2 separate regions of the Homo sapiens genome follow, and region 1 is linked to region 2. Evidence: fine-mapped expression QTL. A gene starts in region 2. The other region holds a variant in brackets. All regions are shown on one strand. Distances are between the middles of the regions. Region 1 holds the start of LOC124906214 (a long non-coding RNA gene). Region 2 holds the start of IQSEC1 (IQ motif and Sec7 domain ArfGEF 1).

Region 1 (8,508 bases), 63 kb after region 2:
CGTTTCTCACTGCCTGGAATGCACACAGGCTCGCCCTGGGCCCAGGAACACCAGGTGTTTCCCCACAGCCGCAAGGGGAAGTTCTTTAGCTCCCCTGCGCGTTAGACCAGCCCCAGGCCCCATTAGGGTTGAGAACCAGGGCCCCGCAGCCCACCTGGATGGCAGGGAGTGTTGGGTCGCTGCCTACGGCCCTCACAACCACCCTGAGAAAGATGGACTCTTGACAATGCCCAGTTTACAGCCGAGTAAACTGAGGCCCTCAGAAGTCACACAGAAGTCAGAAGTCCTCAGAGGCCCTCAGAAGTCACACAGTGGCCCAGGGCTCCTGGAGCATATTTGGTGTGTTTCCTTCCCACACTGCTGCCCCCCTCAACCCTATGGTGCATAAACTTTGAGCAAATGGAGGTTTATGGCTGAGGGAACACAAGGCTTCCCCAGGCTGTGTTGAGGAGACACTGCCTTGCAGAAGTCTTCCCTGCCCCAGGCTCGCTGGGGCCATTTCCCATCTGGCAGTAGCCCAGTATGTGTCCCCCCAGGAGCCCCTTGACCCACTGACAAGTTCAGTATCTTTCTGAAATGATCCAGAGTGGAACCTTGAGGATCTGTAGATCCCTGGGGCTGGGAGCGTGTTGGGGGATGTTCCCTGGGTTCTGAGCTGTAACCCCTGAGCCTGACCTCTTGGGGTCCTTGGGCCAACAGCCCCTGGCTCACTGGGGTCATCAGGGAGTTCAACAGATGGGTCAGAGGAAGCTTTTACCGACCCAGCCTCAGGGAGCAGCCTGGGAGCTCTCACTCCCAGCCAAGCCTCCCCCACCCCAGCCCTGGCTCTTGGGGGCAGGCAAGACAGATAGCCCTTTCCTTAGGACTGGAGCCCAACCAGTGGCAGATGGAAAAAGTGAGGCCCAGTGATAAGGAAGCAATGGGCACCTTCACCCCTGCCCCCACGCTGCAGACAGAAGGCTGCTCAGTGCCCTGAGGGGTCAGTCACTCTGTCTCAAATCCCAGCTCCCCAGTGTGCCCCAGCCATGTGACATGGGACAGATGTCCCAACATCTCTGGGCCTGGGTTTCCATATAACCCATAGCGAAAGTCCTCCCTTCCGGGGTTGTTGTGAGGCTTAGATGGTGAAGCAGGCCTCTGTGGGGAATCTCCCTGTGGGCGTAGGTGACTCTGGGTTCCCATCTCACTGAGAGATTTACCAGGGCACAGTGCCCCTCAGGCTGGTTAGGGGAGGCTTGATGACCCCAGTGAGCCAGGGGCTGTTGGCCCAAGGACCCCAAGAGGTCAGGTTCAGGGGTTACAGCTCAGAGCCCAGGGCTCTGGCCTCCAGCTCAGCTACCTCCAGCAGCAACCTGCCTTTGTTGGGCGCCAGGGCTCAAGCTGGGGAGCCTGGCCAGGTGGCTGCCCACACCTGTGTTCAAGGCCCATTTCGGTCCAGCCCAGCAGAGGCACAGAGCAGATCAGAGCCCCTGCTGCCTGCCTGGGGACTTCAGGGGAGCCCATCCTGAGGCCTCATGTCCTCACCTGTGAAATGGCCAGGTGTAACCAGGAGCCTTTAAGCACTCCATGACTCTGTGCAGAGTTTCATGCACATCATTCATTTGTTAATTCAGTCATTCAACAAACATTTATTGGGCACCTACTGTGTGCCAAGTACTGTCTTGTCTCTGAGAGTACAAAGGTGATAAATCAGATAAACCATCCCTTCCCTTCTTGGTGTTGGGGAGTCAAGCAATATATGACTAACGCAATGCATGCATGATAGGTCATGGGGATGACATGTTCTGTGAAGGAGAGTAGGGCAGAGGAAGGAGATGGGCGCAAGGAGGGGTAAGCGGTTGGTTGTATTTTATTTTAATGGACACATGTCACCTATTAGAAAACACCTGTAGGCCATCAGGCAGCTGAGGGCAGGTTGGAGGGTCCACACTGTGGCCTTCATTCCCTGAGTCCCTTGTGGGCTAGGCCAGTGTGAGCTGTCCTCTGACCTGCATGCAAGGGTGAGCTCATTAGCCCCATCTGATGGACTTGCAAACCAATGCCCAAAAATCCCAACCAGTGTAACTCCAGTGGCTTCTGGGAAAGAGGTGAGGGGACTCCGCCGGCAGAGTGGGTATCTGGACTGTACTCAGCGTGTGGGAGCATTGAAGTGGCTATCAGCCGGGCCTGGGGTGTGGTCAGGCTGTGGTTAAGAGCCCAGACCTTGGGAGGCCAAGGCGGGCGGATCACTTGAGGTCAGGAGATCGAGACCAGCCTGACCAATATGGTGAAACCCCATCTCTACTAAAAATACAAAAATTAGCCGGGCGTGGTGGCGCATGCCGGTAATCCCAGCTACTTGGGAGGCTGAGGCAGGAGAATCGCTTGAACCTGGGAGGCAGAGGTTGCAGTGAGCCTAGGTCGTGCCACTGCACTCCAGCCTTGGACACAGAGCAAGACTGTCTCAAAAAAAAAAAAAAAAGCCCAGACTTTCATGGGAGTTTCTGTTCCACTGCTTTCGTAGCTATGTGACCTTGGGTGTGTTGGGTCCCATCTCTGAGCTTCACTTGGTCAGTGAGGGCTGTCTTAGTAGCAAGTGACAGAAAATCCAAACCTAACGGGCATAAGCAGAAAAGGGGTTTCATTGCCTCCTGGAACTGAAAAGTCTGGAGGGTAACTAGCTTCGGGAATGGCGGAATCGCAGTGTTCATATATGGATTTGGACTTTTCAACTCTTACCTCTGCTTTCCTTCCTACTGTCTTCACTGTGAGGCAGGCCCTCTCCATGTGGGCATCCCTGGCTCTGTGCCCGGCATGTAGCAAGTGCTCAGAAAACATTAGGCATTTCCTTTCATTCGGTCGTCACCAGCCCTGTGACAGGCCAGCTGTAGGGCCCAGGCTGTGGTGAGCAACACATCGTTTCTGTCTTGGGGATGTTCACAGTGCTCTGTGGGAGAAGGGACTAGAAAAGAGGAAATGACTACACATGGCACTCAGGGCTGAGAAGGGGGTGAGCTCTGAGGCCTGTGGGAGCCCAGAGGAGGGACACTGGAGTTTTTATCTGGAGGAGTTCCCCAAAGGCTTCCTGGAGGAGGTGGCAGATGAGCTAGATTTTAGGAGCAATGGAGGAGGTAGCCTGGCAAATGGCAACTGAGGGAGCAGGGGCCTAGGGTCGGGTTCAGGACTCATACACAGTGGAGCTGACCTGGCTGTGCTAGGTTCTTGGAAGTCCTGGCTGAACTCAGAGAACTGGTTCTTGGGCCATGCCGGGGGTGCAGGCAAGTAAGCCTGCATGTGGGTGAAAGGTAGCCCCAGCAGCAAGGCTGTAAGGAAAAGAGGGAATGAGCACTTAGTGTACACCTACCGTGTGCCACACCCCCTCCATATGTTGCCTCATTCTGGCCACTCCGCAGCCTCTGGTGGTGCCTCATGCCCACTTTGCAGAGGATGAGCCACAGGTTCTGATCAGGTGCTGGAACAAACCACCCTTCTTAAGTGAGTCCCCCACGAACTTAGAATTTGAGACTCACTCATTGGCCAGGCTCAATGGCCTCTGTTCTGCTATCAAGAGGCTGCTGGGATGTTACCCATGGCAGGGATAGATGGGGAAGTCACCATATTCAAAACAATCATGTGTTGAAACACCTCCCCAGCTTCTGATCTACCGGTAGTGGCAGCGGAAGCAAATACAGCAAATCTGAAACCCGATGCCTACAGAACAGGGGTGTGAAATGTGACGCCAGAGGCCCCCACACAGAAGTGGGTGTGGACAGCCACCTGCCTGTGAGCAACCAGGGGAAGCTAGCTTGGTGCCGAGTTTACACAGTGAATGTTAAAAAGACTTCGAAGCTGGCCCCAGTGTATTCGCACACAGTTGAGAAAGGCCAGGGAGGATAACAAGGGCTAGAATATAGGGTCAGCTCCCTACAGTTGCTGTAACCCCCTGGGCAGCTCCCTTTACTTCTCTGAGCTTCAGTGACCTCCTCTGTAAGTGAGGATAACATTTCCCAGAGTGAGGATTAAATAACATTATGCATGGACCTGCCCATAGACAATGACCTAGCAATGGCTCAGTGAGTGTCAGTGATGATTATCCCCAAGTAAAATAAATTTGAATTTAAAATTTTAAAAATGGTCATTTTTGCATCCATTGTCTTGAGCCAAATGGGAAACGGTTTGGTTCAGCCTCTAAGCCCCTGCGGGTAGGCCCTGGGTCTTTCAGCCCTGTGTCTGCTGGTACGCCTGGGGCTCAGGAAATGCACATGGTGTGTTAAAACCAAGTTTGAATTTGTCAAATCCCAAGTCAATCCAGGATGTTCATTTCTTAAATGATACAGTGAGACAAAGTTTTTTTGAAGAGGAAAAAGAAAAAAAAAAGTGAATTTCACTCTGGGGAAATAAGCAGAGTGATGGGAAGCTGGAGGTAGATGCCACTGACACTCAGAGTGGTGGAGGAAGTGTGGGGAGGCTTCCAGGAGGAGGCAAGCTCTAGTGAGCAGGCACTGCTCAAGTGGGGAGTGGAGGAGAGTTTGGGTAGAAACTGTAGGTCGAGTCTTCATGGTGTGTTTGGGAAACAGCAGTCTTGGGTGATACCTGTCTGGGAGGGATGAGGGCCAGAGTTCAGGACAAAAAGGAAGGCAAGTGGGGCCCAGAGCCCAGGGTGCTGGCCTCTCCCTGCAGGCATGAAGGAGCCGCCAGGAGCTTTTGAGCAGGGAGTTTTATTAACCAGTATTTGTTTGGTTGATTAAAAAAAAGAGGCACCCCAGACTGGCTTGACGGGCTTAAGGCAAAGGCTGAATTTATTGCCTTCTGTTTCTGAAACAGACAGGGCTTCAGGTACAGTTGGATTCGGGGGCTCAAACCATGACCCCAGACGCCGGCCTCTTTTTCTCTT[T/C]TTCCATCTCTTTGACTTCATTCCCGGACAGCCTTTCTGCCCAGATGGCCCCAACAGCTCCAGGTCGACATTTGTCATATCCAGGCAGAAACTGTTCTGACAGAATCGACTCTCCATGGTTAGCTTAGACCACATACCCATCCCTGGACCAGTCACTTGAGCAGGGGGGATGAACTACTCTCTCTGATAGACCAAGCTCGGTACTGCATTCACCCCTGGAGGTAGCTGACCCAAATTAGATGGACTGAGAATGGAGGATTGGATTCCCCAAAGAAAATTGGGGTGTCTTACCGGAAGTGAGAATGGAGGCTGGTCAGGCAGAAACATCCTGCATCCACCATTGCGACCTGCTAAGACTTGTGGGCTGGTCATTCCGCCACTATGACCTGCTAAGACCTGCCGGCTGGCCAGCTGAGCCATGTGTTCTGCTATGCATCATCCCTTCGGGTCAGCCCCGTGAGGTAGAGTTTGTTATGATCCCTATTTTGCAGATGAGAAAACTGAGGCTTAGGGAGACACAGTCACTTGCCGAAGGTCACACTGTTAGCAAATGTCCTCAAATCCCAAATCAGCTTGACCTGAAGCCCAGAATCTTAACCACATGCTCCACTGCCTTACAGCAATCAGCAAAGAGTTTGAAGAGGATGCCTAGGGAGCTTGGATGGAGGACAGGCTGGCAGAGGAGACTGGAGGCAGAGGATGGGAGTAGGAGGCGGGCGCCACACTGGCAGAGAGGAGGGATCCTAAGACATAGAGCTGTGGTGTGCTAAAGCCCGGCTCTCAACGCACTGTCAGCTTCACTTTTGTTGTTGTTTCCTTATATAGATAAGATATCTGATAAAATATCTAATCAGCAAAGTACATACACACACACACACACACACATATATATATACAAACATACTAATTATTATGCCTACTGGTTTCTGCTTGGGGTGATCTTGGCAGGAGGAGGTGAGGGATGAGGGTCCTGAGCCTGGAAGTTGGAGTTATACTTGGGCTGCGGGCATCTGGGGCATTTCCGGGGGAGTTACCCCAGGAAGTGGTCAAAGGGAGTTGGCCGCCCACCTGGCTCAGGGCCAGGGCGGAGAGCGGGCAGGATGGGGAAACAGCCACTCTGCGCTTCCCTTTTCAGCCCTAAGGCTTCTCAGGCAAGGTCCCGCCTCCCTGATGACATTACACCATGTCAGAAATCAGCCTGCCCACACCCTCATGGCACAAAGGGGAAATCAAGGCAGCAGGCCATTTAGCTTCACCGCCACCACATGGAGAGGTGTGGCAGTCCGGGCACCGGTCCTGGATTGGCTGTCACCGCACTGTGTGACCTAGGGCGAGTCACCAGGCCTCTCTGGGCCTCAGTTTGACATCTGTAAAATAGACCTATGAAGACAGAGCAGGCACATGAACAAACCTTGGCAAATAACCTGACCCAGTGCCAGGCACTTCACAGGCTGTCAGGATTCCTTCCCTGTGTGGTGATCTCTCGGAATCACAGCCTTGGAACCCTGGAGAGGAAAAGGGCTGTCGATCTCAGAAAGCCAGGCCAAGACCCAGCTCTGCAGCATACAAGCCATGTGGCCTTGTGCAAGTCACTTCACTTCTCTGGGCCTCCATTGCCTTATCTGGAAAATGGCTTAATAAGCACCCCCTCATGCATGAATGAGAGGGTTAACTGAAAGCCTAGCCCGTGGGATGGGGTTTGCCAGCGTGTCTGGTTCCCACTGGGTTAGCTGGATATCCCCTCCTCTGTGAGCTCCCCTTTCTGCCCTGGAGCCGGATCAAGAGCGTTGTTCTATCAGTAACTCGACCAACTAATATTGACTGTGTGCCCAGCACCGCTCAAAGCAGTGAGGACACCAGCGTGAGACCCCCTCCCTCACAGAGCTGGCATTTGGGGGTTGGGGGAGGCAGAGAGGTGACAAGTAAACAAACACACAAACGAGCATTTCCAACATCACAGTCAGGAAAATGAAGCAGGAGGCTGCAGTGGGGAGCGACTTGGCGGTGGTCAGTGAGGGCCTCCCTGAGGAGGGGAACTGAGAGCAAGAAGGAGGTGGCTAGCAAAGATGGGGGCCAGCCAGGTGGCAGAGGGAAGAGGAGTATGAACAGCCCCCTGGGGATTCAGGCTCAAAGGACAGAGGGTTTGGAGACTAATGGCAGCACTCTCAGAGAGGACGTCTGGGTTGGACAGTGGACAGCCTGACGGTCACTGGTGGAGGATGCTTACCTCATTCTCTAAACATTTGCTGGAGGGAGGGTCAGCTGAGGCTCACCTCTGAGCTTCGACGCGGGAAGGAGAGGTGTCCAGCTTGGCCTCAGACCCCAGACGGAGGGTGACAAGGTGGTGATGGTAATGGACGGACATAGCCAGGAGAGGCAGCTAGGTTCAGTCCTGAACTTCAGAACTGCCAAGAAGTACCTAAGTAACCCCGTTTCATCTTCAGGTACAGACACTCAGAAGGCCAGGCACCTGGCCCCTCCCTGGGGTTCCTGGGGTGGGCTTATGGAAGGGTAGTTCCTCTGCTCTCTCACCTGGCTTCCTAGAGGAGTGCAGGCTTAGAAGGTCAGAGCTGCAAGGACTTTGAGAAATCACCAAGCTCTCCTCCCACAGGACAGGGGATTCTGTGACCTTGCTCCGGGGAAGGGTGGGCTCCATTGGTAAGCTGGACGTGCTGGGGGCTCTGGACTCTGGGGCGGGGTACGGGTGGGGCCCCAGAGACAGGGAGGGATGGCTGGGCTCAGCCCCAAACTTCCAACAGCCAAGAATTACATTTCATCTGCAAGCACAGAAACCGCAGAGATAGGCAGACCCAGAAGTGAGGAGTGGGTGGCCTGCGGAGGCTTTCAAGCAGCAGCAAAGAAAACGGGATGTTTTTCAAGTGCGAAATGGGTGATAAGCTCTAATGTGTGTAGGAGTATGGTCCCAACTATGATCTCATTCCATTCTCACAATAAATCCTGTCCAACAGGAATATCTGCCCTATCTTGCAGGGGGGGAAACTGAGGCAAGCCAAGTGACTCGCGCAAGTTCCTTGCCAGCCAGAAAGTGGCAGCATCAGAATTGAGACCTAGAACCTAGCTTTCCTTAGAGACACGGAGGGTGGACCGGTGCAGTGGGTGGGGCAGGTAGAGAGCCAGGCTGGCCTCTGCCCTCCTCCCAGGGGCAGCTGGGCCCACAGCTGGCGTCCCCACTACTCAGTTCTCTGGATGTTTAGAACGGCCGACAGGCCAGTTACAGAGCCAGCCCCACCTGCTCTGTCTGGATCCCGCATACCAGCTGGAGACAGAGTCCTTGCTGCAGCTCCCCTGACCCTCTTCCTAGGGGTTCTGTCCCCCGACCCTAAGTGCCTTGGGCTCTGTCTGCATGAAGACACGTGATTCCCTCCCCACAGTCTCATGCAGCCCCTGCCAGCTTCCTCTCCTGCACTCCACCCTTGTGAATTAGGGGCACCCCTACCACTGCAGGGATGGGGGCCAAAAAGACCTGGAGGAGGACAAAGCCTAGCAAAACCGACTTTGGACAAGTGTCTCCTGCTCCTGAATCTGTTTCCTCATCTATAAAATGGGGAGAGAGATACCCGCCGGTAGCAGAGCTTTGTGATTTTGACTGCAAACATGTCAGGAGAGGCCAGGCT
Region 2 (8,508 bases):
GGCCGTCCTTGGCACAGTCAGCAGCAAACCTGGCAAGGCGGCAAGTGGGGACCGATGCCAGCCCTCGTGGCTTTCAGATCTCCATCAGCCAGGACTCCAAAATAGCATCGAGAAGCAGTGGATGTGCTCCATTTCAGGAGCATATCAAGGACTGCTGCTCAACTGTTATAGGGCCAGGGTCTGATCTTCTCCCCCAAGACAGGGGACAGGGCACCTCAGTGATACTTGGTTTGCTGCAGAGGGAGGTGTTTGCCAGGCTTCCAGAAGCCCACACACATTTCCAGAGATAATTGCTTCCGGCTGCTTCCTCCCTCCGTCAGCCACCTGCACGTGAGGGGTGGGGCTGGGCAGAGATGTTAGGAGGGCCCTGCACGAGCCTGCCAGCGAGGTCCTCCCAGCACCAGAGCCCGAGCCCATGTCTATGATTAGAAAAGCCTGTGATTTGGGAACTCAGCATGGAAGAGTCTGTGGTTTAGAGATTCCATGATTCAGTCTTCCAGACATAATGCCGAGTGGGGAAAGAGTTGCAGAAAAAGATATGCAATGTGATCCTACTTATGTAAAGTTTAAAAACGTGCACAAGTGTTTATATGGTTTGTGGATACCTCTCTATGCAGGAGATTCACTACAGAGTGAATTCACCATGGGGATGGGAGGAGGGCAGGGCTGGCGAGGGGATTTAACAGAGGTGGTGACCCTGGGCTTCCATCATATTCGTCATGTTCTGTTTCTTGTAGTGGGTCAGGGGTATATCAGAGTTCACGGTATTCATCTTTATGCCTTTTGGCACATTTTAAATCTTTTATTAAAAAATTCTTAATATTCTGGGTTTGGTGGTGCATGCCTATAGTCCCAGGCTAAGGCAGGAAGATCGCTGAGCCCAGGAGTTTGAGGCTGTAGTGTGCTATGGTTGCTCCCGTGAAAGCCACTGCACTCCAGCCTGGGCAGCATAGTGAGACCTTGTCTTTAAAAAAAAAAAAAAAGAAAGAAAGAAATTTGTAAAATGATGCCATTTTTTTTAGGGTCTATGTAATACTTCCTATTTTCTATAGGCATATATATGTAGATAAATGCATAGAAAAAGTTCTGGAAGGATCCACTCCAAACAGATGACAGCGGTCACCTCTGCAGAGATTGGAACGGGGAATAAGATTTAGGAGGGTGGGAGGTAAAGGGGGCTTTATTTTGTTTAAAGAGAATACATTTTCTTATCATTTGTGCAGTTAGGATTTCATTTCTTTAAAATGTGAAGCTTCAGCTAAAAGAAAATAAAGTCCCCAGACTTGAAGACTGTGTGGTCCTGAGATTTAGAGTCAGAGTGTTGACGGCTTTGCAGTTCCACAGTTGGAACGGAGCAGCGGGGGTGGGGGGTTCACTTCTGCCCAGCCCTGGATGAAGATCCTGAATCCCTGGGATTCGGGGCTCCCTGCCTTGAAGAGCTCTGTGACTGTCAGATCTGTGGACTGCATGCTCCAACCTTCTCCGTCCTCCCTCTTCCCAAATGCTGTCATGTTCCTCCCACCTTGGGGACAGATGGCCGCAGGTTGCAGGAGTGAGCCGATCTGCAGGAATGTTCCTGCCAGCCTGCAGGGTGGAAATTTTCCCGTTGAGGGAAGGGAGATGGATGTGAGATGTTTCTGGACTTACCCCTTGGCAGCTGCTCTCACCTTCTGATCCAAGCGGCTTCCCACAGTCCACAATGATGAGGCAAGGGCAGGGGTGAACTTGGGCACTTACAGAAACTCCAGGGGATGAAAACGCTGTCTGAATGCTAGGTTCCCACTGTGCCTTAGTCTCCAGCCTGCAGAGGTGGGTGAGTGGGTGGATGATTCTGTGATATAACCAGGGTCACAGGGCAGCAACCCCAAGGCTGGCTGCCCCTGCTTCCCACTCCAGACATCTGGTTACAACTGCGAAAGTGAGGAAAGTGGACAATTCCATCCAGAGTTCTGTAGCTCCACTTCTTATGTGATCAGGACCCTCTCACGACCACAGGCTTTGCATCTGGGAGGTGTGGCTGACAAATCTGCCCTGAGATTGGATGTCGAGGGCTTGGGGTCATGAGGTAGGTGAAGCTCAGCCTGCACAGGTGGGCGCGCCCCTTTTCTGAGACTCTCTGACCTCTCACTGCCTGAAGGGATGAACTTGTGGGTTCCGTAGTCAGAGATCAGAGTCGGAATCCCAGCTCCACGCTTTTTGGAGCCTCCTCTGTGCCTGGTCCGGCGCTGGATATTGAATGTCAGAAATCAAAACCGCGCCAGTGCAGGTGGGTTGTAGGCACTACCCACGTGCCCTGTAAATGATGTTTTGTAAAAGCCTAAAATCTTGGCATTTGTATCTGAATGCCAGGGTCCTTGCCATTTCCTCTGCTTTGAAATAACAGCATAACATGGAAGGAAAAGGAGAGTACGTTTATAAGAAGAAGTGCTGAAGAAGCAACGGATGTGCAGATGCATGTCATGGGCCTCCCAGGGAGCAAAAGAGGAAGCCCAGGAAAGGGACACTGGGTGCTCCACACTCAAGGCATCCAATTCACCACTCTGAGCCTGTTTCCGCCTCTGGAAGATGGAAGTGAGAAGAGAATCGCTAGTTGAGCAAGGCGGCTGAGAGGGGCATTGCTCTAGCCCGAGCCAGGCTGTGAGTTAGTCTGGGCTCTGCTGCTGCCTTGATGGGAGACCCCCGTATGTGGTGCAACCCATCTAAGCAGGAGTGGTAATTATGTTCACTTCGTAGGGCGCTTCTGAGAATTCACTGAGACCATGAAACAACTGGACCTGACACAAAGTGAGCCCTCCTGATGCAGTGGCTGAATTTTGATGTTATTAAAATCTTTTGAAACTCCAGTGAGGAGAGGGGTGGGGTGGGCTCTGCAACATGTTAACCCACAGAAATATGAATTCCTCACATGACTCAGGGAGGGAGGTCCGTGCTACAGGAAGATTGGTCATGCATATGGATTCACCTGGAGAGGGCAGATCGGGAAGCGTCATGCAGTTCTGTTCGATGCCTCACCTTGGCCACCTGAGGCCGCAGCTCCAACCTCTGCTCCCTACCAGGACACTGAGCTGGAAGACTGGGGTCCTAGTCCCACCTCTGCCACTCTTTGCTGTGCAACTTTAGGCAAATCGCTCACCCCCTGAGGTTCATTTCCTCCCCTGTAAAGGATGGAATGGAACTCAAGGATGCAGCATCACTCCTTCTAAATTCGGTGAGTGTGAATCTGGAGAGAATGGAAAGAGGAAGGGAAATGGCCCTGTGGGCTGCCATCCACATCCAGCCGATTCCCAGTCTCAACTACTCCCTCTCTCATTTATTCCTCCCAGTGAGGCAGCTTTCAAGCAGTCAAGAACCAAGACTCTGGAGCCAGACTGCCCGCCAGCTATGTGGCTTGGGCCAGTTGCTGAACCTCTGGCTTTAATGCGCTCCCCCGTGAAGTAGGATGATAGTATTAGGCCTCATTGGGGTTGTCTTGAGGATTACCGTGCACGGAAGAATATTATCTACATGCCTCTGAGATAGGTCTGGGATTCCTGGTTTACAGATGAGGAAGCAGAGAGGATCAGATGAACATCAGACAGGAAGAGAGAAATCTGTGTGGGAAAGGCGGGTGTGGGAGCCGAGGATGGATGTGCGCTTCTCCCCTCCACCTCCCTGTCGCACACTGCACCACGCTGGCCTCCTCTGGGCCAGTCAAATACACCAGGCTGCCTTCCGCCTCAGAGCCTTGACGCCAGCTCCTCCCCTGCTTCTTGCGTCATCCGAGTCTCAGCCACACGTGCCTCACAGAGGGCCTTCCCGACCACCCCGTCTGATGGCAGAAGCCTCCTTCCCGCCTCTCTTGGGGTCCCTGCCTCCCCTCTTCCTGCTCTCTTTTCATCCTGATCCTTATCACCACGTGCAATCCTATATCTGCACACTTACTTCCTGGCTTCCCCTTAGACTGTAAACATCATGAGGGCAGATACTTGCCCGGCACATGGAAGGTCCTCGGGAGAGGAAGAGGCACCATAGCTAGACCAGAAATTCTCCCTAGCCACGTGCAGCCCCCTTTGGGACAGGACTGGCACAAACGAGGACTGCTCTGCCATCCACCGTGCAGCTACTGGCGTGGTGCGCCCTCCTGGAACCCCGTGGTATAGCTGTTATGATCCCTTTCACAGTAGCATAATCAAGACTCCCAGGAGAGACGCGGCTTGCCAAGGTCTCATCGCCCTTCAGTGGCAGAGACAGCCTTGGAGTCGGCCGGCCTCACTCCAGGGCCAGAGCCCCGAGAGCTCCGCGGCTCGCGTGTCTCAGTGCCGAAGGCAGAAAAGCCGCCTTGGAAAGTAGTGTCATCGTAGGCTCCGCGCGGCGCGTGCATTTTAGCAACAGACTTCCAGGTTTCCAGCGCGGGCCAGGAAGGGGCCGGCGCCCCGCGCCCCGCCGGGTGTGTGACTTTGCCGCGAGGGCGCAGCCGAGCGGCCGCGCCTGATGCTGCTGTTGCCATGGCGACCAGCGCCTCGGCGATTGGTCCGGCGCGGCCGCACTACGTTGCTCCTTGGGCGCGGGGGGTGGGGGAGGCTCCGGCGCGCCCGCCCCTTCTCCGGATGCTGCGAGAGCAAACCCGGGGCAGCCTTCTCTCGACCCTCCCCTCCTCATCCCCGCGCCCCGCACCCCGGATGGACGGGAGGGAAAAACCCCAAGGTGGGCCCAGGTAGCAGCGAGGTGGACGCCCCCGCCCAGCCTGGCGACCACGGTTACTCGACGTCCTCGCTCGCTCCTGGGCACGGTGTGAGCGCGCGCTACGTGCCAGGGCCCTCCACAGCCCGCTGCTGGCGCCGCCCCCCGCTCCCGCCCCAGCCTCCCTGGAGGAGCCCGCCACCCCCGGGAATGTGACTCGCCCCGCGATTTAATTTTATTCCCCTCCACTTCTTGCCTGAGCCGCCTGCTCCTCTTGGAAACACGTTGAGCCTCCCCGCTGGAGAGGGAGCCAGAACAGGGAAGAACGGATTCACACAGGATGGCTTGCAGAAGACGCTATTTGTGAGTATATGTGGCAGGTTTCTGCCTGAAGCCAGAGGCCAGAGGGGCCCGGCTGAGCTGGGAGCTGGAGTGAGGGGCATCGTTGGGGGAGGGGCAGGTGGATGTGCAGGTGACTTGCAGAGGGAGCTGGCCACCCAGCAGGGATGCCGGCGCTCGGCCCCTGCAGCGGAGGTGTTTGTTGGTGATGACGATGAGAAAAAGGCTATTAGTCAGCAGGTCTTCAGCAGGCTGTGAAATTCCCAACTGTGAGAGCAGGTATCCCCCCTCCCAGATCCACATTCAGGGTGCCCAGACCGGCTCCTACTGTTTTGGCTTTGGTTTAGCCCATAGCCTGTTTAGGAAGAGAATCTCTGCCCAGCACGCCCATGGCCAGCCCTTCAGCCATGCCTGATAGAAGGTCGCAGGCAGGCTGAGGCAGTGGCCAGGATGCTGCGTCCTCCAAGGGCAGGTGAAGGTCCAGCCCACCGTCCCTAGCACGGAGGCATCAGTGTCCAGCTGTGTGCCCAGGTGTTCTGTGGGCTGGCAGCAGAGCGGCTGTGTGCTGGGCCTCACGCCAGCAGCAGAGGCTGTGAAAGTCTGCACGGGGCGGTGACATCACGGGCCCGGGTATTTATGGAAACCAAAGCCTGCGCTTCGGTTAGCCAGGCTTCCCAGGGGGCAGTGGGGTTCGAATGCCAGCTTCCCTCACAGCTCTCTGGGCGCTGCACTGTGCTGTTCTAGGAGGAGCAACCTTTGCCCTCCTCTGGGACCCTCGGCTGCGGGGGTTGAGGCCCAGCGTCAGGTCTCCACCTGCCTAAACTATTTGCCCAGGACCCACTCATTTGGGGCTGTGCAGTGACCTCAGACCTTAGGAGGTTAGAGAGCATGGCTGAGTCCTCTTGAGCTGGGCTCAGTCGCAAGGCTAGGAAAAGGAGGCCTGGAGCAGTATGTGGGGAGCCTTCTGGGGGCTACCCCAAGGCCTCCCTAATCGATGGAGGCCCCTTACCATGGCAGGGGCCTGTGGAACCCCTGATAGAGTGGCAGCTCCCCGTCACCTCCACTGAGGGAAAGTAAACACACCTCTGCCTCTGCTGCGTCAGCAGTGCCAGGCGGCAACCCACGGGGGATGGCGGTGGCCTCTGGTTCGGGGGATGGCGGTGGCCTCTGGTTTGGGGGATGGCAGTGGCCTCTGGTTTGGGGGATGGCAGTGGCCTCTGGTTCAGGGAATGGCAGTGGCCTCTGGTTCGGGGGATGGCGGCCTCTGGTTTGGGGGATGGCGGTGGCCTCTGGTTCGAGGGATGACGGTGGCCTCTGGTTCGCTGTGATGCTCACTTGCTTTTTTAGTGGAGAAGCTCACAGGTTGGTTTGTCGATGCGAGCAGAGCACACCAAAGTTCTCACTCCCTGTGGCAAGGCCCTCGCTGCATTTTCTGAAACAAATAGTAAATCCTTTCCCAGCGTGGAACTTCCACCCCAGTGGCTGGGAATAGGTCCTCCTGAGACAGCTGTCTCCTCCCTGCCACACCTTTGCCTGGGCCCAGGAGCCTGATGCCAGAGAAATTCTAAACTCTCAGGGCTGTTACATCGGGGAGGGGAGATGTCATGAGGATGAAATGTGACAATTCATATTCAGATTACTTGGCCCAGTGCCTGCTTGCCTCCAATGCTCAGAAATGTCATCCTCACAAAGGCCTTGTCTGGGCAGGCACTAAGAACCCCATTTTAGAGATGGGGAAACTGAGGCTCAGCACAGTTCTACTGGAACCCTGGAGTATACTAGCCTGGGGTGGGGGTTGTAGCCCAGGAGCTATACTGGAATCACTTGAGGAGCAGTTAAAGAAACAAACAAAAAAAAAAAAACAAAAAAAAACTGTGTGGGTCCCACCCCCAGACATTCTGGTTTCTAGGTTTGGGGGAGGGCTCAAGCCTCAGGATCTTTTTCATTTTCCGGATGATTTTAATGTCCAGGTGTGGTTGATGTTCCCGTGATGCAGCTATTCACTGTGGCTGCGTTGCCCAAGCCTATCCAATTGCAGTTTTGCAGGGACAATGTTCTATATGGATTCCAATACTCTTCCCTGGAGAGTCTGCTTCAATCTGTTGGGGGCCCAGCCACCTGCATTTGAACACGTGGCTCTGGTGGATTTGCTGATTCCTGGAATAAGCTCGTCTAGCCTTCCTGCCTAAGAGAGGGGCTGGCCCGAGGGGGCTTAGCGCTCACTGTCTTTCTTTTCTGTGGGTCTTTTCACTCTTCTCCAGCTCTCAGGCTCCCAGTCTGAGCATTGTGACTCCCAGGCCATCCCCGCTCTGCCACCAAACCTATTGGCACCAGAAATACCAAAGATACTTGGAGGGGGTGGCTCTGTTTGTACGCAAGGATCTTGTAACCAAGAGCAGGCCTTTCCTGAGGTTACCCTGCTGCACTTGATAAGCCTGTGTTTGCCCACCATTACTCCCCACCCAGAACCCGCGGCAGGCCCACTTCTAGGCCCAGGCTCTCCCAGCACCTGCTGCTCAGACCTTATTGTTACCCTGCCTTTCAGTGTGGAAAGGAGATGGGGTGTTGAGCATCTCTAGATGTTTAACTTTCCCAACAGTTGCACTGTAGCCACTATCAGAGCTGCCCAACTTGATTGCAAAGCGTTCTCATGCTTAGTTGCCTCATGGGGTCTCACCAACTGCTGTAAAATGTGATACTGTCGATCCCGTTTTACAGAAGAGGAAACTGAGGCTCAGAGAGGGGAAGGAACTTGACTGGGGTCACACAGCTGTTTCCTGCCGTACATTTGGCAGTGGTGTCCCTTCCCCAGCATGCCACATGTCAAATCGGGACAGACTTGCTCCAGCGGCCCTGTGCATGGCACAGCCAGGCTATCCTCAGCCTAGTGGAGCCCTGCCGGCGGGCCCCCACCCCCACCCCACTGTCCTCACTCCCTAGCCTCCATTTTCGCCACTTCCACTCTCTGGGCCCCTGGTGTGCACCCAAGGGAGCTTTATGGAATCGAGACTCTGTCCCGGTCAGGGCTCAGTCCATCGTGAAGGTGGCACACTGGATGGGATAAAGGATGACAACAAAAGCAGGAGAAGATTTCTTAACCCAATGGGGGAACATCAGGAGGCTTCCAAGAATCAGACCCTGAATCAAACTTGCTAACACCTGAGGTCATTGCTGTACTGGCAGCTTCATGAATGGTGTCTGAATGAAGGATGGCCCTCAATTCTGTAACTACAGCATCCTTTTCATCATCTCTGCAAGGGGCCCCTCTGTCCTCATGGGCATGTCACATCCTGTCACTTGAACACAGGAAGTGAGGCTGTGAGGAGTTTGTGGTGTGTGAGATGTGGGCTGCTTGGCCAGGCCAGTGGAGCACTCGCCTACCCATGCCTGTTCAATCATTCATTCACTGCCTGGAACTGTCCCGACCCCTCTCTTCCTTCTGTTTGGGGGACATGATGACCTGCCGGCCCCCGCAGGAGGCAGTGGTCTCCCTCTGGTGGGATGCCCTGA

What was found.
Region 1: its variant is fine-mapped to the expression of IQSEC1 in whole blood (TOPMed, PIP above 0.99).

The regions. Positions count from the first base shown.
Region 1 is chr3:13,006,918-13,015,425 of GRCh38, reverse strand. All of the region lies in intron 1 of IQSEC1 (IQ motif and Sec7 domain ArfGEF 1), which reads left to right. It overlaps LOC124906214 (a long non-coding RNA gene), which reads right to left and starts at 5,836. Exons shown (of 2, transcript XR_007095821.1): 1 at 5,165-5,836; 2 at 4,682-4,969. RefSeq lists enhancers at 1-284, 542-1,041, 1,042-1,543, 2,993-3,152, 5,791-5,860 and 3 more. The variant T/C (reference allele first, on the strand shown) is at 4,874.
Region 2 is chr3:13,069,506-13,078,013 of GRCh38, reverse strand. IQSEC1 (IQ motif and Sec7 domain ArfGEF 1) reads left to right here and starts at 4,585. Exons shown (of 14, transcript NM_001134382.3): 1 at 4,585-5,022. The coding sequence starts at 5,000. RefSeq lists silencers at 4,210-4,389, 4,510-4,669 and enhancers at 8,013-8,182, 8,193-8,272.